Regions from separate parts of the Homo sapiens genome. Here region 2 is linked to region 1. The links come from fine-mapping of genetic effects on gene expression. A gene starts in region 1. The other region holds a variant in brackets. All regions are shown on one strand. Distances are from middle to middle. Region 1 holds the start of NECTIN3 (nectin cell adhesion molecule 3). Region 2 overlaps LOC105374039 (a long non-coding RNA gene).

Evidence for each region.
Region 2: its variant is fine-mapped to the expression of NECTIN3 in whole blood (TOPMed, PIP 0.97).

The regions. Positions count from the first base shown.
Region 1 is chr3:111,059,864-111,074,823 of GRCh38, forward strand. It overlaps NECTIN3 (nectin cell adhesion molecule 3), which reads left to right and starts at 11,953. Exons shown (of 6, transcript NM_015480.3): 1 at 11,953-12,314. The coding sequence starts at 12,155. It overlaps NECTIN3-AS1 (NECTIN3 antisense RNA 1), which reads right to left and starts at 10,096. Exons shown (of 4, transcript NR_045114.1): 1 at 9,927-10,096; 2 at 9,401-9,608. LOC151760 (putative uncharacterized protein LOC151760) reads right to left here and starts at 11,903. Exons shown (of 4, transcript XR_007096272.1): 1 at 11,629-11,903; 2 at 9,401-9,608. RefSeq lists a silencer at 11,681-11,780.
Region 2 is chr3:111,523,716-111,539,132 of GRCh38, forward strand. All of the region lies in intron 2 of LOC105374039 (a long non-coding RNA gene), which reads left to right. Among named protein-coding and RNA genes, the nearest start is that of CD96, 11 kb to the right of the region's middle. The variant GA/G (reference allele first, on the strand shown) is at 7,879.

The DNA of each region.
Region 1 (14,960 bases):
ATCAATGAATCTAGAAGTTGGTTTTTCGAAAAGATTAACAAAATAGATAGAACACTAGCCAAAAGAATAAAGAAGGAAAGAGAGAAGAATCAAATAGACACAATAAAAAATGATCAAGGGGATATCACTGTGGATCCCACAGAAATAGAAACTACCATCAGAGAATACTAATAAGCACCTCTATGCTAATAAACTAGAAAATCTAGAAGAAATTGATAAATGTGTGGACAAACACACCCTCCCAAGACTAAATCAGGAAGAAGTCAAATCCATGAATAGACCAGTAACAAGTTCTGAAATTGAGGCAGTACTTAATAGCCTCCCAACCTAAAAAAGCCCAGGACCAGAAGGATTCATAGCCGAATTATACCAGAGGTACAAAGAAGAGCTGATACACTTCCTTCTGAAACTATTCCAGACAAAAGAAAAAGAGGGACTCCTCCCTGACTCATTTTATGAGGCCAGCATCATCCTGATACCAAAACCTGGCAGAGACACAACCAAAAAAGAAAATTTCAGGCCACTATCCCTGATGAACATCTATGTGATAATACTCAATAAAATTCTGGCAAACCGAAACCAGCAGCACATTATAAAGCTTATCCACCACAATCAAGTTGGCTTCATCCCTGGGATGCAAGGCTGGTTCAACATAGGCAAATCAATATACAGAATCCATCATAAATAGAACCAATGACAAAAACCACATGATTATCTCAATAGATGCAGAAAAGGCCTTGGATAAAATTCAACACTCTTCATGCTAAAAACACTCAATAAACTAGGTAATGATGGACTGTACCTCAAAATAATAAGAACTATTTATGACAAACTCACAGCCAATATCATACCGAATAGGCAAAAGCTGGAAGCATTCCCTTTGAAAACCGGCAGAAGACAAGGATGCCCTCTCTCACCACTTGTATTCAACAAAGATTGAAAGATCTGGCCAGGATAATCAGGCAAGAGAAAGAAATCAAGAGTATTCAAACAGGAAGAGAGGAAGTCAATTTGTCTCTGTTTGCAGATGACATGATTGTATATTTAGAAAACCTCATCATCTCAGCCCAAAAACTCCTTAAGCTAATAAGCAACTTCAGCAAAATCTCAGGATACAAAATCAACGTGCAAAAATCACAAGCATTCATATACAGCAATAATAGACAGAGAGCCAAATCATGAGTGAACTCCCATTAACAACTGCTACAAAGAGAATAAAATACCTAGGAATACAACTTACAAGGGATATGAGGGACCTCTTCTAGGAGAACTACAAACCACTGCTCAAGGAAGTAAGAGAGGACACAAACAAATGGGAAAACATTCCATGCTCATGGGTAGGAAGAATCAATATAATGAAAATGGCCATACTGCCCAAAGTAATTTATACATTCAATGCTATTCCCATCAAGCTACCATTGACTTTCTTCACAGAATTAGAAAAAACTACTTTAAATTTCATACGAAATCCAAAAAGAGCCCATATACCCAAGACAATCTTAAGCAAAAAGAACAAAGCTGGAGTCATCATGCTACCTGGCTTCAAACTACACTACAAGGCTACAGTAACCAAAAGAGCATGGTACTGGTACCAAAACAGATATACAGGCCAATGGAACAGAATAGAGGCCTCAGAAATAACACCACACATCTACAACCATCTGATCTTTGACAAACGTGACAAAAACAAGCAATGGGGAAAGGATTCCCTATTTAATAAATGGTGTTGGGAAAACTGGCTAGCCGTATGCAGAAAACTGAAACTGGACTCCTTCCTTACACCATACACAAAAATTAACTCACGATGGGTTAAAGATTTAAATGTAAGACCTAAAACCATAAAAATCCTCGAAGAAAACTTAGGCAATACCATTCAGGACACAGGCATGGGCAAAGACTTCATGAATAAAACACCAAAAGCAATTGCAACAAAAGCCAAAATTGACAAATGGGATCTAATTAAACTAAACAGCTTCTGCACAGTAATAGAAACCATCATCAGATTGAACAGGCAACCTACAGAATGGGAGAAAAATTTTGCAATATATTCATCTGACAAAGGGCTAATATCATGAATCTACTAGGAACGTAAACAAATTGAAAAGAAAAACAAAGAAGCCCATCAAAAAGTGGGTGAAGGATATGAGCAGACACTTTTCAAAAGAAGACATTTATGCAGCCAATAAACATGTGAAAACAAGCTCATCATCACTGGTCATTAGAGAAATGAACATCAAAACCACAATGAGATACCATCTCATGCCTGTTAGAATAGCGATCATTAAAATGTCAGGAAACAACAGATGCTGGAGAGGATGTGGAGAACTAGGACCACTTTTACACTCTTGGTGGGAGTGTAAATTTGTTTAACTGTTGTGGAAAACAGTGTGGTGATTCCTCAAGGATCTAGAACTAGAAATACCATTTGACCCAGCAATCCCATTACTGGGTATACGCCCCAAAAATTATAAATCATTCTACTACAAAGACACATGCACATGTATGTTTATTGCAGCACTATTCACAATAGCAAAGACTTGGAACCAAGCCAAATGCCCATCAATGATAGACTGGATAAACAAACTGTAGCACATACACACCATAAAATACTATGCAGCCATAAAAAAGAATGAGTTCATGTCCTCTGCAGGGACATGGATGAAGCTGGAAACCATCATTCTCAGCAAACTAACATAGGAACAGAAAACCGAACACTGCATGTTCTCACTCATAAGTGGGAGCTGAACAATGAGAACATATGGGCACAGGCAGGGGAACATCAAACACTGGGGCCTGACATGTTATGGGGGGCCAGGGGAAGGATAGCATTAGGAGAAATACCTAATGTAGATGACAGGTTGATGGGTGCAGCAAACCACCATGGCACGTGTAACCATGTTACCTATGTAACCTATGTAACCAACGTGCACGTTCTGTACGTGTATTAAACTTAAAGTGTAATAATAAAAATAAATAAACTGAGTTTTATGTTAAGGTTCTTGAGTGTTGGTCAAAGAAGTTAAGGTAAGGGGATTGGGGGATGGATTGGTTTTCTACTGCTGCTATAACATTACCACAGATCCAATGGCTTACAACACAAATTTATTATCTTATAGTTCTGTTGGTTAGGAGTCTAACACAGATATCACTGGCCGAAATCAAGGTATGGGCAGGGTTGTATTCCTTTCTGGAGGCTCTAAGGGGAAGATGTGTCTTTACTAGTTTTTTTTTTTTTTGAGATGGAGTCTTCGTCTGTTGTCCAGGCTGAGGTGCAATGGCGAGATCTCAGCTCACTGCAACCTCAAACTCCCAGGCTCAAGTGATCTTTCTACCTCAGCCTCCAGAGTAGCTGGGACCACAGGTGTGCACCACCATGTTCACCTACTTTTTAAAATTTTTTGTAGAGACGGGGTCTTGTTATGTTGCCCAGGCTGGTCTCAAACTCCTGGACTCCCACTCTGACCTTCCGACATGCTAAGATTACAGATAGGAGGCACTGCGCCCAGCCTGCCTTTTCAATCTTCTAGATATTGCCATATTACTTGCTTCACTGTTCCCTTCCTCTATCTTCAAAGCCAGTAACCTGTGTCTTACTGACCATTCTTCTGTGGTCACATCTCTTTTACTCTTGTCTTCTACCTTCCTCTGACTTTTAAGGACCCTTGTGATTACATTGTGCCCAACTGGATAATCCAGGATAATCTCCCTATTTTTAAGGTCAGCTGATTGGTAATCTTAATTCTATCTGCAAACTTAATCCCCTTTTGCCATATATTGTTCACAGGTTTGGGGGATTAAAATGTAGACCTCTTGGGGAGTGTTATTCAGGAGGTAAACTGCAGAGGTTTGTAAACAAAAAAGAATGATGCTGAATTAACACAATCTGGTTAATGTAAGTCAGAGTTTATCAGAATTGGTTTTGAGATTTCAATTGGATTGTTGGCAACATGAGCCTAATCAAAATTCCACTCCCGGGCTGCTATGATTGATATGCAATTTCTAAACGTATGTTTAAAATACTAATACAGCTTGGGTAACATAGTGAGACCCCCCCCCCATCTCTACAAAAATTAAAAATCAGCAGGTATGGTGGTACATGCTGCTAGTCCCAGCTACTTGGGAAGCTGAAGTGGGAGGATCATTTGAGTTGGGGAAGTCGAGGCTGCAGTGAGCTATGATGGTGTCACTGCACTCCAGCCTGGGTGACAGAGCAAGACCCTGTTTCAGAAGTATAATAAAATACTAATATTAATATTACTGATAATAAAACTACTACCACACCTAACATTTCTTGGGCTTTATATATTAGGCCCCTTTTAAACTAATTATATGAACTAACTTTCTCCTGAAATATGGTGAGGAAGAAATAACCATTTTCCCTATTTTCACATGAGGAAAGTAAGATAGTAACTTGCCCAGGGTTACAAGATGAGGATTTGAACTGAAACCCAGGCAATGCGGATCCAGGGGTTTTACCATTACATTATACTCCTTCTGTGTGTCTCTCTGGGTTGGGGGGCATGGCGCGTCTGATGAATATCCGCTTTGGGTTAGATATGAAAGGGTACAAGTTAGAAACAATGCTTTAGGTGATTAATTAGGGCAGGATCTTTTGAAATACCCATGGGGGAAGAAGTGGCTTTTTACTGTACTGAACCTACACAGACACCAGACTTCTTTAGTTCAGTTCAATCTAAATACAACAGCAAAACCATCTACTCTTTTCTTTTCCCTCTCTTCCTCTCTTCAACAAATATTTTTTGGTTATTGACAATGTTAAAATAAACTGCACTGGACATTACATAAAGCTGGTTAACTCAGACATGAGACTCCAAGGAACAATATTTAGCGGAAGTAAATGATAAAATCTGCCCTAAAATTTTGCTCAATAATTTGTAAAATCATCAATTGCATTATTGTAAACCTTTGTCATTTGGTTTTTCCACCCCTATTTTCTTCTCTATGTTCTGTCTTCTAGTATCTCTCTGCCTCTACCCATATTTTCATTACCTTCTTTGAGTGCTTTTTTTTCATCACTTTGCTCTCATGCCTTTTGTTTTTTGTTTCTCTCAGTTGTCTAGATTATTACCTCCTAGCTAGCCACACCATATATTCAACCCACTCTGGAAATAAACTATTTTATTTTAAAATACTAAAATTCCCCTGAATTCATTTTCTCCTTTCCATCTGCTTTACCACTTTATTTCATCCATGAATGAAAGTTCCGACCTTCATTCACTCTGCTCCTTACAACAAGTTTTTTTTTACTAAACTCGTACTTATAATTCTCCCAAATCCCCCGACAATATATCCGTCTTCACATTTTTCTCTGACTTTTCCAGCAAATCTAATCTTGTCATTCCCCTACTCAAAATTCATTTGTCCTTATGATCGACCAGATAAAAATCCAAAGCCCCTTACAAGGTACAAGCAATCCCTACCTACCCATCTAACTTCATTTTTACCTTATCTCCCAATTCCCCTTTGTGTGGTACTCTCTAGCAGCACAGGCATGCTTGTGGGTTACAGAACACATCGTACTTGGTCATGCCTCTGTAACTTTCCATCTATCATTCTCCTATTCCCTCTGCTGCTTTTCCTCCATCCATATGTAAAATTTCTAGTCATTCTTTAAGACTGTTCAAATATTATCTGTGCTGTGAAGGATTCCCAGTCTCTTTTAGGCAGACCTGAGAGTCCTCCTCTGCTCTCTCACATACTGTACATCCCTCCAATGTTTGCAAGAATATTGTTATTACTATTTGGAGTCAGGACTTGGGGTTTTCTATGTCCAGTACCTAACACAGACTCCAGTATATAGTAGTTTAATCATCTTTATTAAAGCTACCTACCCTATTATTTAACCTACCTACCATAATGATATAGTATAGCTCTTCTTTCTGCCTGCATATCAGTTTCTCGAACTATATTTTTTGGAACACCAGCACCTCTACAGGAGTTGTATACTATGAATAGAGTTAACCTTTAGATAGTTATGTAAAACGTAAGTTTGTTTTCATTGTAAGTTTAAAAGTCCAAATAATCTTTTCTCAAATAATTTTTAAAATTTCATCTGTTTGTACTGATACATAATAGATGTACATATTTTGGGGGGGTACATGTGACAACACATTCATGTAATTTGTAAAGATAAAATCAGTATAATTGGGATATCCATCACTTTAAATATTTGTTTTTTCTTTCTGCTAGAAACAGTTGAATTATTCTCTTCTAGCTATTTTGAAATACCTAATAGATTATAGTAAACTATAGTCACCCTAGTGACCTATCAAACACAAGGTCTTCTTTTTTCTATCAAATTGTATATTCCTTTCGTTTTTAATTTCATAATTCTCAAGTGCTAAGTTCATAAAAAAATCACCTAAACCATCTAAAAATGAGAAATTTATGTTTGTTTTACCATGACCTGGATGAGGAGCAACAACAAAAATACATAGCATATGTATATATTGCTGAAATGACAACATAATTACCTCCAAATTTACTTATTTCCAACCCATCTCTGCTAACCTGGATTACTGCCAATGAAAGAATAAATTTTGTTCATTTGCCTTGTTTTTATTTACATTAATTGATGGAGTTATGTTGGCTCTGTGATTTTAAGAAGCTCATCTTAGAAAAAAGTAACTGTTACAAGAGAAGATTTTGGGAAATAGTCACTGAAAAATAAGTTGAGGTCCAATCAGGAATACAGAAACTATACTATGTAACCAAGGGAATATTATGAAAATGTTACACAGGGATGGGGGGATGGTTCTCTAGATCAAAAAGGGAAGCACTGTGGTGACCTAGAGATATAAGCTGTGGGAAGCTGTTACTACCCTTAGAACTAGAAGGACAAAGGGGAAGGTTTGTGTTATTAGAACTCAGAAGTTTAGAGGAGCCATCCTCCTTAGCTGGGGCTTGGACCTCTGAGAAGTAGAAACAGCCTAGTTGGTGCTGGTACTTTTGAGGAGTCATGAGGACTCTGGGACTTAGAGTGTAAAAGAAGTGGGAGGCTGGAATCAGCTGCTAAAGACAGGATGACAGGTTATTACCACTGAGGTGATGCTGATAGCAAGAAGCAAATGGAAAGGAACAAGTCCCTTTTCTCTTACTCCAGGGGTCCACATTTCCTCCAGTGACCTCTATTGATAGAACCCGTCAGGAAGCCAGTCGGTAAAGGAGATACACAGTTTGCAGAGTCCTAGCACCAGCCTTACAAAACCAGGGCAGAACTATGAATACAGAGTGGAGAGATAATAGTTTAATAAACAGCACTAATAACAATTATATCAAGAGTGTTAAGCAATGGTCAGAGTAACCACCTTCCAGCTTAAAAAAACTATACATGATCAATCCTATTGTTCAAGACCTTAAAGAAGTATAAACCTCTACTGAATGAGACATGCACTTGAGTATGCTATGTCATAATAATCATTTAATCATCCAGTTTGGAATCTATATGGCAGACATTATTCTAGGTACTTGGGGTTTTTGTTTTGTTTTGTTCTGGTTTTGGTTTTTTTTGGGGGACAGGGTCTTTCTCCAGCTGCCTAGGCTAGAGTACAGGGATGCAATCTTGGCTCACTGCAGCCTCGACCTCCTGGGCTCAGCTGATTCTCGTACCTCAGCCTTCAAAGTAGCTGGGACTACAAGAGCACATCACTACACCCGGCTAATTTTTTTTTTTTTGTATTTATAGGAGAAAGGAGGTTTTGCTATTGATATGGTTTGGCTGTGTACCCACCCAAATCTCATCTTTAATTGTAGCTCCCACAATTCCCACGTGTTGTGGAAGGGACCTAGTGGAAGGTGATCGAATCATGGGGGCAGGTCTTTCCTGTGCTGTTCTCCTGATAGTGAATAAGTCTCATGAGATCTGATGGTTTTATAAAGGGGAGTTTTCCTGGACATGTTCTCTTGCCTGCCACCACTTTGCTCCTCCTTGCCTTCTTCCATGATTAAGGCCTCCCAAGCCATGTGGAACTGTGAGTCAATTAAACCTCTTTCCTTTATAAATTACACAATCTCAAGTATGTCGTTATTAGCAGCATGAGAACAGACTAACACAGCCATGTTGCCAGGCTCGTCTTGAACTCCTGGACCCAAGCAATCTGCCAGCCTTGGCCTCCCAAAGTGGTGGGATTTCAGGCAGGAGGCACTGTGCCTGGCCTACTTGAGTTTTAACAGTGAAAATATAGATACTTGCTTGCCCTTGTGGACTGTTCATTCTAGTGAAAGGGAACAGACAGTAAATTAGAGACATGTCAGATGGTAAGGGCAATGGAGAAAATAAAGCAAGTTAAGGGCATAGGGATTAGGGTGGGGGAAGCTCTTTCATATGATGTGGTCCTGGAGAGCCTCAATGATAAAGTTAAATTTTATCAAAGATTCAAAGGAAATAGGAGGGAGAAAGTCATATGAGCATACAGGGAAGATCTGTTCAGTAAGAAAGACTTGCATTTAATAAGAGTAAGGTTGGTGAACGTTTTGCAAGTGGATGGACTTTTCTGCGATTTTGCAGTTTGTTTTTTATTATTTGCATAATTCTCTTTACAAAAACTGTGATCCTAACTGGATAACATAAGCTTATTATCAAATATAGTACAAAGTTCAAATATTCTACAAAATATCATTCATCTCTTTTACTAAAGGAAAAGCTATGCGTCCTCACACAGCAGGTTATAGAATTTGCTGATGTTAAGAAGAATTAGCTGAAGTATATAATGTCTTACCTCTCCTGTAAAATACCTCCTTTGTTTCAGAGTCAGCTATGAAATTCTAATAATAGTCTCAAACTTTTCACTTGGATTATTTGAGTAAATGTAAAATGCCCAGCACTGTACATAATTACTTCTTTGTTAAGATGTCAACCTTTGTTTTTTAGTTAAGAGTTAATGAACCTTGATAATTGGCAAACAATCTTTGAGCCGAAAGTAGGATGGACACCATCAGTACTCTTAACCCAAAACAATGAAACTATTGTTGGCATTAGGATTACATTGCTTTCTGTTCAGATAATTTTTTTCTGAAAAAATGCATGTATACTTTGTTATTCAATGGTGTCAGAAATATTAATAAGTTAGCTATAATTAAGTATTCCTTAAACAGTTTGTTATTCAAACAATAAATGTGAACTTATGTATAAAGTTAGAAGACTAAAAATGGCATAGAACGCACTAATACTCTCATGCTAAAGGTTTTAAAAAAATTAATAGTATTTCTGCCCTTGAAAAACATGAGTTGTATATGTAATGTAAAATCTTTTTCTGTGGCCAGTAAAAATTTCCAACAGGAAAGCTTGGGGTGAGTATGTCTAAAATTCACTCATCTGAGGAGAATGTAATTTAAGATTGGGCACTTTTATTATAGAAAGTAGAAATTTGAGTTATCTTACTTTTTAACTTAAAGAATCATCTTGAGAGATCAATGGTGTCCACTGGAAGGCAAGAACTTGGTTCTGGCAGGAAAACCACCACTGGCTGGTAGTATTTGCAGAGCACTTAACCTCTGTGCCTAGGTTCTTGTAGCTGTCAAGTAGATAATAGTAATTGCTACCTTCCGTGGGAAGTGAGCTTGTGCTTTGACATCTTTAGTTGAAGATGCTGTATAAACACAAATTATTATTATTAGAATATAATACATATATGCACATAAAACACCAGCATGGTGCTCTTTTAATGCTTATATAACATCTATAAATAATGCTCTTCCATGCTCTCTCTTCACTTTAGGTCAGAGAATATCATAGCAGACCACTATTCAATTTCTGTAAGTATGGAGGAAATATATTTGTTAAAGCTCCATGTCATCTTTTTGAGACGAACTTAACCTGCTAATTCCTTATGGTCTCTGTAGCAATTGCCCGATGGCCCCTACCCAAGTTAAGCCTTTGGTATTTTTTGAAATGTTGGCTAAATTACTTTTCTTGGAGATGTGGAGCCATCAGGGAAAACCTGGAAGAATGAAATTGGCTAGTGATATTAAAATTTTGGTTGTTTAACATTTAACTGAGTCTCAACAACGTGTTAAAGTGCTATCTAAACAGATAATTAGCTAGTGGCTGCGCAGTGAGCTGTCTAAATTTAGCAGTGAAATTAGGTTTAGGGAATGCGAATATAGAAAAAGAAATTTTCTCAAGGGAAACGGTGGTGTCAGCACAGCTGAGGAATGTCACAATAGCTACATTTTGTCAATTATGATCATCATCAGGGGATCTCCCGGAGCGATGCAGGACAAGGTTTATTCATAAGTGCATCTTGAGAATAGGTGATAGAAAGCCTTGGCTGCAGGAGACAAGCTTACAGGGGACGACAGAGGCAGACAGGCACAGGGAGGGAGGGAAGAGGAAAGGGCTGGAGGGAAAAAGGCACTAGACCGAGCGCTGGGAGACTGGAAGGGAGGCAGAAGTTAAGAAAGAAAAAAGAGGTGGGCAGGGTGTAGAATGGCTTGTAGCCTTGGAGGTTAGTAAAGCCTTGTAATCCAGCGGGCGGAAGGTGGGAAGACCCTATTGACTGAAAGCCGAGGACAGCGTGGTCTTGGCCGCAAGCATGCATTAGTTTAGCTGCGACAGGCTAACTTCTGGGCGGCTGATCCTTGTTCAGCTTTCCTGTTACTGGAACACATTTATGGCTATCTCGTGGAGATGACAGGACCTACATAAAATTAATAGTGTCAGGCCTGAGGACTGGTGTCCTCTGCCTTCAATTCACCCCCTACGCTGGACAGTCCAAATTGTCCACCCTCCTACTCCCCCCGCGGAACCAATGTGGCAGTGGCTCCAAGGTCAAGCTGCCGGTACTGTGCGAGGCGGGAGGATGGAGAGGGCAGGGCGGAGAGCCACCTGGGATGAGCGAGGGTCATGGTGGACCACAGACGCTCTTCTTATACGGGCAAATGTTTAATACTTCCCGAGGTCGCCTCTCTGCCATCAAACGAAAACAGGCAAGAAAATAAAACTACACATACGAACATGCAAAGGAAACAAAACCAAAGAAAAACACCAACGCACTCGTTGGGGGAAATCCATGGCCTCCTGTTGCCAGTCGCCCGGCGCGGAAAGTGGACAGCCCAGCGGCCAGTGAGAAGCAAGAGCAAGAAAGCAAACCTTCTGAAGACCCCTCTCCTCGCCCAGCTCCGCCGACCATTCTACCAAGCTGCCCTCCCAGAAAAAAGAGCAGGAAAAATGCCTGTGCAAACGTGCCTTGGCGAGCGGGGAATAAGTGGGCTGGGAAGAAGGGAAGGATTCGGAGAGCACAGCTGTCCCGGGGAACAGGAAGGAGGAGAAAGTCTCTCCCTCCCTTCAGTGCCCCGCGCCCCAGCGAGGAGGAAGATTACTAGTCCAGCAGGCTGCGTCCAGCTTCCTACACAGGAACCTTTAGCATGGGCAACGGAAGGGCAGCCCCCTCCTGCCTTCCCCTCCCCACCCCACCCCCTCGTCCCAGGTCCCCGCCACAGGGAGAGCGCCGCCCGGGAGAGGAGAAGGCCGAGCGTGATTGTCCCGCAGCCCTCGCCTCAGTCGGCGCCGGGGCCCCCGTGGACCCGCGAGGGGTGGAGTGGGCGAGACCATTGGAAAGGCAGGGAAGGGGGGAAACCAGGCAGGAACGAGGGGCGGGGCCGACTAACCTATTCCAGATTTTCCTGTCCCTTTTAAATCTCTGCTGTGGGAGAAACCCCGTTATCAAAGTGGATGAAAAGAATATTTTTTTTTGAAAGGGGAGGAGCATGTGTAGGAGGGCGGGGTGGGAGGAGACAGGGCTTGCGCCCGGGGATCAGACGGGAGGTGGAGTTGCGCGGGGAGGGCGGGCGAGTCGGGCGCCCGCTCTGAGAGTCGGTTTCTTTTCCCCCTCTTGCGTGGGGCGGGGTGGTGCGTTCCGAGTTCCCAGGAGTTCGACGCGGGCGGGTGCCGAGGGGAGGGGAGTGGCGGCGGCGGCGGGCGGCTCCCGCTTCAGCCTCGGCAGTGGCGTCGGCGACGGCGGTGTCGAGGCAGCCGCCAGCGTTCGGCCAAGTGTCAGCCGGCAGCGACGGCGCTAGAGCTGGGAGCTGGGGACGCGCGCGCCGGACCTTCCACAGCCTCCGCCCAGAGCCTGAGGCGCCGGGGCCGGGGGAGCCGGGGGGCGGGCGGGCGAGCGGGCCGGGGGGAGGGTGGGGGATGGCGCGGACCCTGCGGCCGTCCCCGCTGTGTCCTGGAGGCGGCAAAGCACAACTTTCCTCCGCTTCTCTCCTCGGAGCCGGGCTCCTGCTGCAGCCCCCGACGCCACCTCCGCTGCTGCTGCTGCTCTTCCCGCTGCTGCTCTTCTCCAGGCTCTGTGGTAGGTGAACCTCGGCGGCCGGCGTGGGCTGAGGGAGCCGCCACTGAGGGTGCGGGCGCCGCGGCCGGCTCTGCCAGCCGTTCTCTGGAGCAGCGAGGCGGTTGGTTGTGCGAGCGAGTGCCGAGGACTTTGGCTGGAAACTTTTCGCCGCGCCCGGGGCGAGGCCCTGGAAGGGCCAGGCCAGCGAATGCTGAGCCGGCGGCCCGCTGCCCTCCCCCGCGGCCGCGCGGGTCGCCGTGCGGATGGCCGAGGGTTGGCGATGGTGCTTCGTGCGCCGAACTCCGGGTTTGCTCCGGGGACCGTTACTTCCTCGCTCATTCTCTGGGAACCCTCGTAGGTTAAGGTGCCGGGATGCACGTTTGCCGCTTTTTTTCCCGGTGAAACTTGAGCTGTGAGCCCAGAAACCCTAGGGACCGGAGCCCGATGGAATGAAGCCTCCGGGTCCACTTCTCATGGCCTTCCACCCTGGAGAAGGCACCATTTTAGCCCACCCAGCCGCAGAATCCCCTACAGCTAGTTTTCTTCTGTCTTGTGCCCACTCCCCCGGCTCTGCCCTGACAGCTTCTGGAGCTCTCTAGATTGACCCTCGTCCCTGCCCTCCAGCTTGTGGGACGTCTCTCACACTGCCCGTGCTTATTTTACCAAACCGCAGGAACAAGATTTACGTGTTAAATACCTGATTTCATGGACTGTGTGCCCCGGCTGTTCTAACCAAAACAGTCACGCGCCTGTTTCCCATCTCTTGACCCTCGTGTTATGTTACTGTTTTCCTGTCATATTTGGGAGTTAGTCTCTGAGTTTTCTTCCCAGGTATGCCAGACTAGAAGCCTGCTTATTAAGGACTGTGCTAAAAAAAAAAAAAAAAAAAAAGTCTGCCTCATGCAAGAGAAATGGACTTAAGTGGTAATTAATGGGAGGCAGCGATTTGGGAAAATAAGGACACCAGTCTTTGGTGGGAGGAGGAGTATCAGAACACTGCGAGTAGTTATTTATTTGAGGGCTCTTGGTAAGAAAAGTAGAGGGGCAGAACTTAAGCTTGGTCAAAGATTGGTTTTCAGTATTTCATAAAACCGTAAACTGAAGTTTTACTAGTATTTATTAAAAGGAGAGATGTGTGCACATTTCTTGAATAGTGTGATTTAGAAGGAGGAGAATCCTGTTACATGGTAGGTGAGTCAGGGTAGTTGGTTATGAGGGAAGCAAAGTTTGCATGATGGGATTGAGTGTCTCTTCTGGGCTGAGAATTTCCACTGACAGTTTACCACCACGTTTCCAGCACTGTAATGAAATCTGATTTACACAGAGTATAGTATGGTAAATGGAATGTTATTAATTGTACGCTGTTTCTGTATGCCGACTCCGCAGATACTTGGTTCCAAGACAAAGTTCTTAATGCTATACCTTTTTAAATTGATGCCAGAGTCTAGATTGAATTTGTGTGCTGTTCTATTCCATGAAGGAGAATTGGGGATGTTGCTTACAGTTGAGTGAGAGGACAGTTGGAGGGGACCTTACCAGTTTACTATCCTGACTTCGTTTATGTTAAGGACTGAGAGAATATTTATACCTCCACAGAGGCAGATCTAGTTAGGCAAAGCTCTGTGGAAGACTGAAGCCAGGTAATATGCATAGCTGATGCAGGAATTATTTACATGATAATTTCTTAGTGGTTGTGAAAATGAATTGTTGATTACTTTTTGAAGGAACACATTGGTTTTCACATGGAAGAAGAAAACAGTTTTAAAAAATCTCAATGTAGCATTGGAAGGACTTGATTTTTAATTCAGAGCTTAAAAACTTAAGCAGTGTAGGCAAATGGACTGTGTTTTAGAGCAGGTGTAGTGTTTAGAGTCAACTCTTCTTGTTGTAGAGGTAGACACTGGTTTTGTATTCCTGTGTGCTACTCATTTAAACAGCTTCCTTTTTTGGCTTATAGTGTTATAACACCCTAATTTGTGAACCTTTATGACGAGTTTTTTCCATCAACCTTTATTTTGGAATTAAGTCTTTGAATAGGGCACAGATGTTGTGACTTATGGAAGCTTAGTGGTATGGAAGCAAAATTTTCTTCAAGTAAGCTGTTAGTCTAACAAGTTGTTGATTTAACTACTGTTTTAGTTAATAGAGTTATAATGATGTTCATAGTACTGCTTACAAGGTTTGGCATGTAATTAATATTTGCGTGGAGCCAGTTTTAGAGTTGAAAAGATTTTTAAGCTTTAAAAATATGACTGTAGCTGATGATTTGTTGATGAGAATGCTTTACTTGTTTTATGACATATAGATTTTTCCTTTTGCTGCTATTTTTGATATTTTGATATGTTTGATATATAGCGTGGCCTTAACTTTATCGTGTTAATTTAACTGTTAAAAATATCCATCAAAACTGGTGGACCTGATATTCTGAAGGCTATAAAAATGTTTATATCAGACTTGCTGGCCGTTTGTTTTGGGGGTGTGCATTATCTTATTTGGAGAACTGAACTTTTAAAATGAGAGTTTTACAGGTTGTCAAATTGCCAGATTTTTTTTTTGTTTTTAAGCCTAAGAGATTCCTAGGTATAAGTGTCAAGGGGACTGGGCTTACGTCATCATCTGACTTGATAAACGTCATTTAATTATGAAATTCGAAGTTTCTTTATGATG
Region 2 (15,417 bases), 460 kb after region 1:
TGTTCATGATGTGAGCTCAAATCTTTGCCTGAAAATCACTTTCTTTGACCACCTTTTGTTCCATATATCACTGACTGTCTTAGGGGTCCAAAACAGAGCTGGGAACTTTGGTTAATGATGGATGGCACTAACCAGTATACAGATCACTCTTCTTCAGCTCTTTTGAATCTGTACAGTTGATACGGGGAAAGAAAAATAAGTTCACATTTGTTTTCATCAAGGAAAGAATTAGGCAATTCATATAAAATAACATTTTGGCCAAAAGTTGTTGTTATCATTAGAAAAACAAAAAGGACTATGCATTTTATGCTAAGAATAGCTTGTTTTGCACCTGGCTTACTTGGATGCCAGGCACTTTACATGTCATCAGTCTTCACACATACCCATTTAAGAGATGCTAGAACACAGAGGCTTAGAGAGATTTAGCATTGCTGCAGGAAGTCAGGGACCCCAAACAGAGGGATCGGCTGGAGCCACGGCAGAGGAACATAAATCATGAAGATTTCAGGGAGAGTTATCAGTTCCCTAATAATACTTTTATAATTTCTTATGCCTGTCTTACTTTGATGTCTTAATCCTGTTATCTTTGTAAGCTGAGGATGTATGTCACCTCAGGAACACTATGATAATTGTGTTAACTGTACAAATTCATGGTAAAATATGTGTGTTTGAACAATATGAAATTAGTGCACCTTGAAAAGGAACAGAATAACACTGATTTTTAGGAAACAGGGGAAGACAACCATAAGGTCTGACTGCCTGCAGGGTCGGGCAAAAAGAGCCACATTTTTCTTCTTGCAGAGAGCCTATAAACAGACATGCAAGTAGGGAAGATATCGCTAAATTCTTTTCCTAGCAAGGAATATTGATATTAATACTCTGGGAAAGGAATTCATTCCTGGAGGAAGGTCTATAAATGGCTGCTCTGGGAATGTCTACCCTATGTGGTTGAGATAAGGACTAAGATAAGCTCTGGTCTCCTGCAGTACCCTCAGGCTTACTAGGATTGGGAAATTCCATCCTGGTAAATTTTTGGTCAGACTGGTTCTCTGCTCTCAAACCCTGTTTTCTGTTAAGATGTTTATCAAGACAATATGTGCATCACTGAACATAGACCCTTATCAGAAGTTCTGCCTTTTGCCCTTTGTCCTGTTTCCTCAGAAGCATGTAATCTTTGTTCTGCTTTTTGCCCTTTGAAGCATGTGATCTTTGTGACTTATTCCTTGTTCGTACATCCCCTCTCCTTTTGAAATCCTTAATAAAAACCTGCTGGTTTTGAGGCTCGGGTGGGCATCACAGTCCTACTGACATGTGATGTCACCCCCGGTGGCCCAGCTATAAAATTCCTCTCTTTGTATTCTTTCTCTTTATTTCTCAGCCAGCCGACACTTATGGAATATAGAAAGCACCTACGTTTAAATACTGGGGGCAGGTTCCCCTGATATCTGGCACACCAATGTGGTTTTCTTTTTCCTAAGTGCATGTGGGAACCCAATTCCCTTTGGTAGGTGTGGAGAAATTTTCATTGGGCTGGCACACAGAAATGCTTGTTCAGCTCCCTGATGATTGGTGAGTTGTCTGTGTATTGTCCAGGGTAACTATGGGTCACATGGAGTCTAAACATTATGCTTATCTCTGCTATATTAAATTCCTGTTAAAACAGGGAGGAGTTTGAGTGCCCATAGAAAATATGGTCACCCTATTCAGGGCGGTGGAAGAACACTGTCCTTGGTTTCCTAAAAAGGGAATATTAGAACTCCACAGTAGGGGGCAGGGCGGTCGATCTCTGTAGTACCAGTCCTCTAAATTTACTACCTAATTCTTTCCCTTTAATTGTCCCCACGGGGGTTATTGGCCCTTTACCTCAAGGTTCAGTGGGCCTGGTGTTAGGCAGGGCATCCACCTCTGCTGACGGTATCATAGTTCATACTGGTCTCATTAATTCTGATTCCTCTGATGAGATTAAACTTATGGTGTCTGCCAAAGTTCCTGTTTCCATTTTGGCCGGTGAGTCAATTGCTCAATTACTTTTACTACCTAATATTATTTTAAACAAAGGAGATAAGACATGGGGCCCTGCGATGGGCTCCGGCAGTGAAAAAGCTGCTTATAGGATTAATGTAATTTCTAAACAACAGCCCACCTGCACCATACACATTCAAGGAAAAAAGTTTGACGGCCTAGTAGATACTGGGGCTGATGTTTCTATTATTTCCTCTAATTTATGGCCTTCCTCCTGGCTTAAACATCCCGCTAACATGGGACTAGTAGGTGTTGGAAAAGCTGATGAATTTCACCAGAGCACATTTATCTTGCCTTGCACTGGTGCTGATGGTCAAAAGGGTACAATTCAGCCTTATATCACACCAACCCCCATTAATATTTGGGGTAGAGATTTGCTGGCGCAGTGGGGGGCTGAAATTAATATTCCATGTAACTCTTATAGTGTTCCCAGTCAACATATAATGGAAAACATGGGGTTTGTTCCCAGACTTGGTCTCGGTCCAAGACATGAAGGAATTACTAAACCTCTTCAAGTTACTGTAAAAGAAGACAGGGCTGGTTTAGGTTATCCCTTTTAATGACGGCCACTGCCATGCCTCCTAATCCTGTAACTTTGTAATGGAAATCTGAAACACCTGTTTGGATTCAGCAGTGGCTGCTCTCTAAAGAAAAACTGGAGGCTTTAACTCAATTGGTTTCTGAACAGTTATAAGTTGGAAATGTGGAACCGTCTCTTTTGTCCTGGAATTCTCCTGTGTTTCCAGTAAAAAAAAAAAAAAAAAAAAAAAAAAATTCAGGTGAGCGGAGGATGGTAACTGATTTAAGGGCCATTAATGCTGTAATTAAACCTATGGGACCTGTCCAACCCGGCGTGCCTGCCCCTGCTTTAATACCTAAAAATTGGCCTCTCATAGTGATTGACCTTAAAGACTGTTTCTTTCATATTGTTTTACATAAATCGGATTGTGAAAAATTTGCTTTTACTGTACCATTATCAATAATCAGGAGCCTGCAGCTCATTATGAATAGAAAGTACTTCCTCAGAGACAGGCTGTGGTGGAATGGGCCAATCGCACTTTCAAAACTCCATTGTCCAAACAGTCTGAGCAACAAAAGCATAATGTAACCACTCCCCACTCCCAATTACATTTAGCATTGTTTACTTTAAACTTTCTAAATGTTCCTAAAGACAATACTCTGACTGCAGCTGAACGCCATTATACAGGGAAAAAATTCTCCCTAAATGGAAGCAAGCCAGTATTATGGAAAAACTCCCAGACCAATACCTGGGAACCTGGAACAATTTTAATGTGGGGACGAGGGTATGCTTGTGTTTCACCTGGAGATCATCAATCCCCTGTCTGGGTGCCCACTAGAAGACTTAAACTTCCTGTAAATACTGACAATGAAAACCACAAGGAAAAGACATCTGCGTCAGAGACCGCCATCATACCTGGTGAGATCTGTGCCGACTCTGCAGAAACTGGCATGCCAAATCAAAATGGGTCTGGTTTAATCCTCCCTAATGGCAATGGAGACCCCTCTAACTAATCCCACTTCTCCTAATTCCCTTTCTTTTTCTCCTTATGAACCTAAAAATCTCGCCATTTCTATTAGTCTGAAAATAACAACCCTCTGTTCTTCTCTTCTTCCTTCAGCACTGGACCTTGCTTAAATTGGTTTTATTTAATAATTCTCCTCCTTATACTTTCTGTCTCACCAGTTTCCCCTCAAACTGATTTACCTGCTACACAAAATTATTCTTATTGGGCTTATGTGCCTTTTCCTCCACTTATTCGAACTTTCACCTGGATGGATGCTCCTGAGGAAATCTATACTAACGATCGTGTGTGGATGCCTGGAGCTAGAGATGACCGTTGCCCTGCTCAACCAGGAGAAGAGGGCATTGCATTTAATGTTACTATGGGTTATAAATACCGTCCTCTGTGCCTCGGACATGCACCTGGTTGTATCCATCTAGAAACTCAAGTCTGGTCTGCTTATCTTCCAGAGAGATTAGCTACAAGGGAAGGAGGACATTTGGTCTCCGGCCTCTCCCTTTCTCCTTTAAGACAAATAAAAAGGGGAGTAATAGGAGATACCCCATACTTTCAATATAAACCTGTAGGAAAACCATGTCCTAAAAATTTTGAGGGCCCATCTAAAACTTTAATTTGGGAAGACTGTGTTAACTCACATGCAGCAGTATTAAAAAAAACCCATATGGTTTAGTAATAGGCTGGGCACCAAAGGGCTATTTAAAAAACAATTACTCCTCTGGCAGAAGGGAATGCCTGGAGGGTACTTATTTTATTTCTTATTGGGAGGGCGAGGATCATCATCCTACTTTGCGTAGGAGGTTCAGCTCATTCTTTCCCTTAAAATGGGAATATAAGGGCATTACCCCCCACCTGAGGCCTCATATGATATTCCCCATTCTGAGCCCAGAACACCCAGAACATAGGAAATTGGCTATTGTCATGTCCAGACTCTGAGTATGGGAGGGGGAAACTTTTCTGTCTGTTGTCCCCACTACCGCCCCTTGCATCCGTGATTCTGAACCCCATGGTAAATCCCCTTTGAACCCTTTTCCTCTTTTTGATGCTGATCCTACTTTATGGGACTCCAATTGGCATAATAATAATTCTTCTCAACCCGGGTATACCCCTCCACCTCTTCAGCATCCCTGGGCACCTCAGATTGCTTCTTTACAGCGGAGAACATCGGGCATTGCCACCACCACTCCTCTCCCTCAGTATCGACATAGATTCAAACATTCTGCTTTGTTTACCTCCAACCTGACTATTCCTATACAGAGTTGTGTTAAGCCTCCTTACATGCTGTTAATGGGAAATATCAAAATTTGGACAAACAGTCAAACTGTCCAATGCAATAATTGTCATTTATACACTTGTGTTCATTCCCATTTTGACTTCAGGAAAAGTGTAATGTTGGTTCAAACTCAAGAAGGAATCTAGATACCAGTAACTTTACCCAGACCTTGGGAATCTTCCCCCTCAGTACATTTAATTAATGAAGTGTTACAACGAATTCTCAAAAGATCTAAGAGATTTGTTTTCACTGTAATTGCTGTGATCATGGGCCTAATTACAGTCACTGCACTGGCCACCACTGCCAGAGTGGCATTACACCAATCTATTCAAATGGCTCATTTTGCTAATGATTGGCAAGCCAGTTCCACCCAAATGTGGAATTCTCAACAAGGCATCGATCAAATATTAGCTAATCAAATTAATGATTTAAGACAGTCTGTTATTTGGCTTGGGGATCGGCTTATGAGTCTCGAACATCACATGCAAATGCAGTGCGATTAGAATACTTCTGATTTCTGTATCACACCATATTCCTACAATGAGACTGATCATTCATGGGAAATGGTCAAAGGACACCTTCTGGGTAGGGAAGATAATTTATCCTTGGACATAACTAAACTAAAGAAACAAATTTTTGAAGTCTCTCAAGCTCATTTATCCATTGTGCCTGGAGCTGAGGCGTTAGATCAGGTGGCAGAAAGTCTTTCTGGACTAAATCCCACAATTTGGATTAAGTCTATTGGGGGCTCCACTGTAGTAAATTTTGGGATTAGGTTTCCCTGTTTAATCAGCTTGTTTTTAGTGTGCCAGACCAGTCAAAGAATCCTGTGTCAAAACCAAGAGAACGAACAAGCCTTCATCACCATGGCACATTTATATAAAAAGAAAGGGAGAGAAGTTGCGAGAAGTCAGGGACCCCGAATGGAGGGAACAGCTGGAGCTGCGGCAGAGGAACATAAATTGTGAAGATTTCATGGACATTTATCAGTTCCCAAATAATACTTTTATAATTTCTTACACCTGTTTTACTTTAATCTCTTAATCCTGTTATCTTCGTAAGCTGAGGATGTACATCACCTCAGGACTACTATGATAATTGTGTTAACTGTACAAATTCATGGTAAAACATGTGTATTTGAACAATATGAAATCAGTGCACCTTGAAAAAGAACAGAATAACAGCAATTTTTAGGGAGCAAGGGAAGGCAACCATAAGGTCTGACTACCTGTGGGGTCAGGCAAAAAGAGCCATATTTTTCTTCTTGCAGAGAGCCTATAAACGGACATGCAAGTAGGGAAGATATCGCTAAATTCTTTTCCTAGCAAGGAATATTGATATTAATACCCTGGGAAAGGAATTCATTCCTGGAGGGAGGTCTATAAACGGCCACTCTGGGAATGTCTGTCCTATGTGGTTGAGATAAGGACTGAGATACGCTCTGGTCTCCTGCAGTACCCTCAGGCTTACTAGGATTGGGAAACTCCATCCTGGTAAATTTTTGATCAGACTGGTTCTCTGCTCTCGAACCCTGTTTTCTGTTAAGATGTTTATCAAGACAATATGTGCATCACTGAACATAGACCCTTATCAGAAGTTCTGCCTTTTGCCCTTTGTCCTGTTTCCTCAGAAGCAAGTGATCTTTGTTCTGCTTTTTGCCCTTTGAAGCATGTGATCTTTGTGACCTCCTCCCTGTTCATACATCCCCTCCCCTTTTGAAATCCTTAATAAAAACCTGCTGGTTTTGAGGCTCAGGTGGGCATCATGGTCCTACCGATATGTGATGTCACCCCCAGCAGCCCAGCTGTAAAATTCCTCTCTTTGTACTCTTTCTCTTTATTTCTCAGCCAGCTGACACTTACGGAAAATAGAAAGAACCTACATTTAAATATTGGGGGCAGGTTCCCCCGATATAGCTTCTGTGTAAGGCCACAGCTAGAAAGTGGCAGAGCCAAGAACCAAAGTATATCTGATATGCCTTGGATCCATGTTCTGTACAAGATTTTCTCTGTGCTGAACAGCCCAAATTAGCACAGGTTATACATGTATATACACATGTGTATATATATGTATATATATATATCTCTCTCTGTAAAGTCTTAGGTGTGATTTTCAAAAATGATTTTGGATTCTGACATGGCAAAACAAGCCCCAGTGGAGAGGATTTTGATGCCTTTCTATCAATTACTTCTACTGGGGGTATAGACAGGAAGTGTCTGGAGGCCAGGCTGGATGCTGCTTAGTCTCTGCAGCTTAGAGGTCAGTACCGAGAAACCACACCTGTTGAAAGGTTGGCTGTTGGTGCAAATCACTGAGGAGGAAGACTCCACACTGCTTGTCTCTACTGTCAAAAGAGAGGATTCAACACTGTGGGAAACTTGTGCCATCCCAGGATTGCTATGGATTCATTACTTTTTTACTTTTAGCACATGTTCCTTTTTCTCTAGCCACACTTAGATATTTTTTCTTAATTTCTGTTCTCAATATCCAGGACTTTTGGCTTTCATTTTCTGTTTAAAAATATATTCTCAAATCTTCTATGATATGATAAGATCTTGATTTAATTTCTCAATACCCACTAACCATCCACTTAGACTTCTGTCCAATTCTTGAAAAATATTACTTCTATTTTGAAAAGGTTTTCATTCTTCTAGTTTTTGTGTTTAACTTCTTACCTCATGTTTCTTATCACAGGGGCAATAGTAAGACAGAGAGCCCACACAATGGAGCATAAAACTTCTTTTGTTTAGGCATTGGGAGGATGGTTCTCCAAAAAGCCTCCTTCTGAGCTACTTAGACTATTGATGGTTCATCTCATGTGGGAGTATGTCTTAAATCAAGGCCCCTGGAAAACAGACACTGTGGTGAAATTTGCCTACAAAAGCTTTATCAAGAAGTGCTCTTGAGAACAACACCTACAAGGGAGTGAGGGAAGCAAGAGGGGATGGAAGGAGAAGCTGCCTTCCAACGAAGTTGCAACAGAAGCCTCAGCCCTTCCCACAAGACAGCTCTAGAGCTGGGATGTCCCTTTAGAGTTATCAA[GA/G]ATTGAGGCACAAAGCCAGACCTTTGTGCATCCTCCTTCATTATCCACTCATTACCAGTGGGCTGTTCCCAGGGAGAAAGCAAAAACTTAGAGAGGCAGCTTTCTTTAGATTAAGGAAATTCTTGGAAAGTGATGCAGCTATGAGCCATCAGCAGGCAACACTCCCAGCAGCAGAAAAAATTAGTGCTTCAGTCGTGAACGGGGAAATGGGACAGTGCACCACAGTATCCACTACACGCCTCCAGTTTTCTCAGTGTTGATAGCATGCTTAATTTGCTGAAAATATTTTACTTCATTATATCTTTAGTGGGATTAATGGTGACCCCTCAAGATATATGTGAAAAGCACCTGTAAATATGATCTAATTTGGAAAAAGGATTTTTGCAGATGTAATTAAATTAAGGATCTCAAGAAGAGATCCTCCTGAATTAATGGGGTGGGCCTTAAATCCAATGACTAATGTCCTTATAAGAAACAGAAGAGGAGATGACACAGGGAAAGGAGGAGAAGGCCATGAGAAGACTGAAATAACTGGAATGAAGCTCACAGCCCCAGAAGCTGGAAGAGTCAAGGAACAGTTTGTCCCCTAGAGCCTTTGGAGGAAGCATAGCCCTGCTAACACCTTGATTTTGGACCTCTAGTCTTCATATTTGTAAGAAACTGAATTTCTTTGATTTTAAGCCACCAAGTTTGTGGTAGTTTGTGACAGCAGTCCTAGAAAACTAATACAACATCTTATACCATTTAATCGTTACATAAAATTTGTATTCTTAAAACCCTCAATAGGAGGGAGAGTGGCATCGAGATACTTATATCCCTAGGTTTCTAACTGAGGGGTTGCCAAGGCTTGGCTACACATCCATGATGAAGGCCACAGTTCCTGTTGGGAGGCTCTCTCCCTGCAGCTACCCTCTCTCATGGCTGTCTCCCATTTCCCTGCAGTCATAGGAAAGAAAGTGGCTTCCCAATGTTGCTAGCCCCTAAGAACTATGCTACCCCTGGTCTCCCCTAAGCCCTACTACATCTTTATATATAGCCCCTATATTAAACTCTATTCAATTATCACTTTTGAATGTGCCTTCTGTTTTCTACTGAGACTAGACTGGCTTGTCAACTCTGGGGTAATTTAGCTCCCAGGGAGCAATGACTTCAGTCAATGCTAAGCCACTAGTGACAGCAAAAGTTGTATTGCAGCTTTTCTGAGATTTTGTAATATTATGTGCCTATATGTAAGAGACCTGGATTTTATAATACTCATTTTCCCATAGTTATAGCATTAGATCCCTTAACCCTCTGGCTTTCAAAAAAAAGAATCTTGTCATTGGTAGAGATAGGTTTGTCATCCTTATTTTTATCTATCTTAAGTACTGCTATTGAATTCCATCCCTTAGGTAACAAGAATTTCTCTATTTTCTACAGTTGATTTGAGCACTTGGAAAGCCAGTCACAAAATGTCTTAAGATTTATATTCTCTCTGGCAGGGCAAATATGGTCTGCTTTTTTATGTGCTGCTAATTTCCTTCATCTCACATACTCCACAGGAGACCTACGGGTGATAATTGGTGGCAGATCTAATGGGCTCCTTGAACTGCTCATAGCTACTCTGGGCATCCCTCTTCTTGATAACGCTGAGATAATATCATGGGAGAAGAGATATTATTTATCTTTGTCTCCTGTACAGATCAATCCTAGTGCCAGACATTTAAGTGGAGCTCAGTATTTGTTGAGACACTCAGCAAAATTAAGAATATATCTTATTTTTAGAACTCTGACTAGTTTATTTCAATTTTGTGGACCTTGTGAAATGTGTATGCTGTATTATTTCTATTGATGGGAAATGGATTTACTTACTCAAGAGTTTCATCAAAAAATATTCATATAGTGTCTATTATGTGCTCAATACCATTCTCGGGGCTAGAAATATAGCAGTGGAGTAATCAGACAGCCTTAGCATGCATTCTCCACAAAAGCACAGCCTGAGACAAGGGCCTGCCTACAGTTACTTTGGGATGTAATCGCATGGAACAGGAGTGGGGGTGAAAAAGAGTGAAACAGGGAAGGAGGGCAAGTCAATGCAAGGGTGCAATATCAAGCAGCTTACACTATGGTCCACTGTTGTCTGGGTCCCTCTGGGCACTTTCTTAGGATCTGTGTAGAACGCATCTTAGAATCTTTCACCTGAGCAACACAAGCTCCTGTTCCCCATTGATCAAAGGTTGCCCGATGAGGTGTTGACTCCCTGCACTTCCAAGGTCACGCATGTGTATGCATGGATGAGTGGAATGAGGCCTCCACCCCCACCTATCCCCCTTCCCTTGCTGAGGAGGCAGAGATGCCCAGGTCAGAAAGTAAGAGATATTTAGGGCAGCTGAGGAGAGGTGCTTTCAGGCTTACATTTGAGCAGCCTGTTGGACCCATGACAGCTGGAATGAAAAGGTGGGTGTGATATTGTGATGTAATAAGAATTATGTATTTGGTCTCTGTCCCCGGTTCCTGGCACACAACCCCTGAAACTCTTGGAACCTCTTAAGTGATAGATGTCTTTGTGTATGCTAGCAAGATGACTGATGACTGGGGCCTCTGGGATAGCCTCAGGATGGGAGGCTGGTTACCAGGGGAACCAACCATGTGATTAGAAGGTTGAAACTTTCAGCCCCACACCCTGACCTCTGAGGAGGGGAGGGGGCCTGAAGGTTGAGCTGATCACCAATGGCCAATAATTTAATCAATTATGCCTATGTAATAAAGCCTCCATGAACACAAAAGGACTGGGCTTGGGGAGCTTCCGTATTGCTGAACAGGTGGAGGTGCTGGGAGAGAAGAGCACCTGGAGACGGCGCAGAAGCCCTGCACCCTTCCACATACCTTGCCTTATGCATCTTTTCCATCTGCTGGTCATCTTCATCTTTTATAACATTATTTACATGGGTAAACATAAGTGAACTGTTTCCCTGAGTTCCGTGAGCCACCCTAGCAAATTAGTTGAACCTGAGAAGGGGGTCATGGGAACCCTGAATTATAGCCAGTCAATCAGGAGCACAGGTCACAAGCTGGGACTTGTAACTGACATCTGAAGTGAGAGACAGTCTTTTGGGACTAAGCCCTCAATCTGTGAGATCTGACACTATATCTGGGTAGATATGTGTCAGAATAAAATTATAGGACATCCAGTTGGTGTCGACTAGAAAACTGAAAAACTGCTTGGTGTGTGAGGGAAAACCGCCAGACAGCTGGTGTCAGAAGTGAAGTGCTGAGTGACTGCAAGGGAGTAGGAAAACCACGTTGATCTTTTCCTAACTTTAATGGTGGGTTGCAAAAATGTTTGGTGAGTCAAGAAGTGACTAATACATAAAGCTCCTGTCCTTCCCAGGCAAACGCTCTAGTGGAAAGTGACAATATACCAAAAAAACAAATAAATAAATAATCAACTTAATGTCTCATGCAAATAAGCCCTGTGAAAAAAACACAGTTGTTGCTGTGACAGAGGCCCATGACAGGGCTCCTTTAGATAGCCATGAAATTCAGGAAAGGCCTCTTTGAGGTGAGGACATTTGAACAACCACAGAATGAGAGAAAATATTCATGTATGTAGCCTGTGGAAGAGTTTTCCAAGCAGGGCAAATGCAAAGGCCCCGAGGTTGGAAGGACACAGAGAGCTTGAGGGACAGAAAGGAAAGAGTAGGAGGGTTGTGATACGTGAAGGAGCATGGGGTGAAGGAGGGAGGAGAGGTAGCCAGGAGCTCGTGGGGCCTTTAGGGCCATTAGCTGTGGTCAAGCATGCGTATGCCCTAGAGACATAAGAAAAGGGGAACTTGGACATTTACAGAGTTGATATTTGAAGTGTTCATCTCTCACAGGTAACTGTCATGGTCCCTGACACATTGTTCTTTGATATTTTATTTTACCAAGTGATACATCTGAATTATGTGTGCTGTGAATCACTCTGCAGGAGAGTGAGCCTAGTTAACAGCCAACACCCAAATTTCGACCTCATTTTGTGGACTTTTATTCATGATCATGTAAGTAGTAACACTCATGATCTGATTAATGTTCATTTCTGTATGAAAAAAAAGGTCAAGATAAAGCCAACCACTTCAATACTTTAAATATACATAACTATGACTTCAGGATGCATTTCCCACTGTTGGGCACCAGGTCTTGATTTATAAAATAAGGGAGTTGATTCTCCTGAGTTTCTATGGGTCTACATGGCTAAAGTGTGAAACTGATAAAATACTATTAATTCCAAGTAGATTCTAACTTTCTCTGAAGCAATAAGACATACTATTATTTTAGAAAAAAAGAGCTTTGAGGATCTTCAGCTTGCTTAAAAGAAACCTCCACACGGAGCGTTTTCTATAGTTTTTCTCCATCCTCCTCTAGCACCCCTGGAAATGTGGCCTTCCTCACTATGTGCTGGGTTATTAGAGAAGCTTCCCCATTAAGTTACAGTCATGTATATTGGAGATAGAGGAGAGGCTCAAAAGAGAAAGAGAGTTTGGAGATGTAAATATGAGACCCATAGTATCTTCCCTGAGCAAAACCAAAGGGAATAATAAATGGCTAAAGAACAGTGAAAATAAAGTAAAATTGATGCTGAGTTATATAACACTGGAATGAAGCTAATTCAATACCTTTAATTAAAAAATAGCATGCTTGGTTTCACCCAGAGTCAGTCAGAATTTCTCCAGGAAATTAAATTTAAAAGCAAGCAAGAGAACAAACAAAAACTTCTCAAAAATATATATATATAATTGTTTGAGATAAAAATCTATTTATTGTGTGTGTATGTATAGTTGAATATATATAAATCCTTATTTTTTCCTCTGTGACATACAGGTGTAGTTTTGTCAATAGAAATGTCATGGGAATGAAAAAAAATGTACGCTTTTTGGATTGCTTCTTATTTGTCAAGATATTAGAGGCAATTTGCATTTTAAATTGAAGAATAATTGGTTTTTATTATTGAATATGTTATGAAGCTCAATGTATTAATGGTGTAAAAGACTCATCGTAACTAGCACAGGATTTTTTATAAGAGACACTTTGATCTTGGGCAGGACATTTTACCTCTTCGGGTGTCATTTATTTCATCTGTAAAATAAAGGGCTCAGTCTATGCTAAATGACCAATACAGTTTCTTCTAACTCCAACATTCTGTAGGTTTTGGTAGGAAATAGAAAACCTATGTGTGCAAGCATGCTCATGCCTCTGCTTTTAACACTTTCACAAAACAGGCAAATCTTTACAAAGTTAGACTTCTTTTCTGAAGGAGAGAGCATATTTTTATGCACAACTGTCTTCTTGTTTGTTATGATTACTTTCTGGGGACTGTGGTTCAGAACAAAGTCCCTGGTCTCTGTAAGATCTCCAATCTTGAAATAAAATTATATTCATGATAAGGTTTTCATTGAGCCAGAAATGTGAAACAATGCATTTTTAAAAGATGTTCACCAACAAGGACTAATTTCTATCCTACTTACTTCTCCTCCCCAGTACTACCCCTCCTCTTCCAAGAAAAGAATTTGGTTTGGCTCTCATTTGCCCAGGAAATGCTATTAATCGCAATCTCCTATTCCCTGATAACATTACTTAATTGAGGTTTTATTGAGCTATACCATTACTCAAAGCAACAAATACAAAAGTGTGCTTTCTGTCCTCTCTCTGTCTCTCTGTCTCTCTGTCTCTCTCTCTCTCTCTCTCTGTCTCCCTCCCTCTCTTGCACTTCTGCATGCCCTATTTCTTTCACTCTTGTCCTCAAATGCAGGACTCCATTTAAAAGGAAATTACTGGGGGAAATAACAGGGAACAGAGGGGTGATTCAGTCCTTGGTTGACCTTACCTAGTCTATTGTTTTCACCAAGTACAGAAACACGACAGTTTCTATGTGAACTATAGTTGTAAAAATACAATGTGATTAAGAATATTATTGTAGCAGTCTATCAAAGAACCACAGTATATGATTTTGCTCCACACTATCTATTTTTAAGCTATAAAATCAATTGCAACCCTTCTCATTTTTCAAGGTGTTCTTTCTTTCTTCATTGACTATGAAGAGACATTTTAATAAATTTTAATGTTTTGAAGCCAGGTAGAATGTAGAACTTAAAATATTTCTTCTAATTCTGGCTATGCTAACTTAACCTTGGAAATATTAATGGTTTCTTCAATGTATTTCTGAAAAAATCAACATTTTGATTACTGAGTTATTAAATTGCCAGGGCTTTGGCAATTTCAAAATATCTCTGTCTCTGTCTCTTTCTCCATCTCTCTCTCTCTCTCCTTGTTTCAGTTTGCTACTCAAAATAAATATTCAAAGATTACTTATTATAATTATCTAATTGAATTATATAATTTTATTTCTGAAAGTAAAATGCCAGGTGGAAATTTTATATATATCTTACCTAAAATTATTTTTTGTACATCTATAAAATGAATTTTTAACATGCATGTGGTAAAAATTCATTTTCTTTATATGTACATGTTTATGAAGAAATCTAGACAAATATACACCATATAGGTCTTGGTAGTCTTTGGGCAGTTAGAATTCTTTCTTATCCATTTAAATTTTCTTTCTTATCCATTTAAAATGGTTTCATGTAATGAGCAGATATTGATGTTGTAACTGAAAAAGAAGTATTAAACTAAAATTAGTCTTTCATGGATGGAATTCGGCATGGTGAAAATGGTGATAAAACAGATTGCTATGCTGAAAGTCTCATGAAATTCTTTTTCATTACATGCTAACTCATAAAACTCATAAAATTTGAGTGAAAACCAAAAGAACTCTACTCTGATGAAGGCAGGACTGCTAGCTGTGCCATAATAGGTTATCTTTCACATCCATCAAAAATCTATTGATCATTTAATAACTGCTCCTTGATTAGGGTGGTTCTTCCAGCAAGAATCCAACTCTGTTTGTTTTCCCTTTTTCCTAATTCTGAGGCATGAAACTTTATAGGATATTTTGATTCCATGCCCAATCGTACATCTCACCTTACAGCCTCTTTATTGGTAATGACCTTGCTTTCATCATGCTTCGCCATGCCAGTCAGCCCATTCTCATCCTAAAGTGCCCAAAGAAACATAAACTCCTAACAAGTCTTCTGTTTCTCTGTTCTCCTTTCTTCCATTCATTTCACACACGCCCACCCAATTTATCCTTTTAAAATGTTACTTTAAATATATGACTCATATGCTGAAATATCTTTAGGGAGTCTCTCTGACATGAGGAAAAAACCCACACCCTTTAGCCTAGAATTCAAAGCTCTTGGACAGCTTTGTCTGCTCCAAGTCCCCTAATACAGCCTCTGCTAAACCGGAATAGCCCACTCACTAAATGGCCTTGAACTTCAACACTGTCAAGTGTTGGCTCTTCCTGTTTCTTCTGCCTGGAATGACTTAGCTTGCGGTTTCTACCAGTCTGACGCCTATAGGGCCAAGTTTAGATTCCATACTTCATATGCTCTTGGCCCACTCTACCCCTAAGATAACTCCCCCTTTGCTAAAATCCTGCCCTACCTTCTCATTTGGGCTGT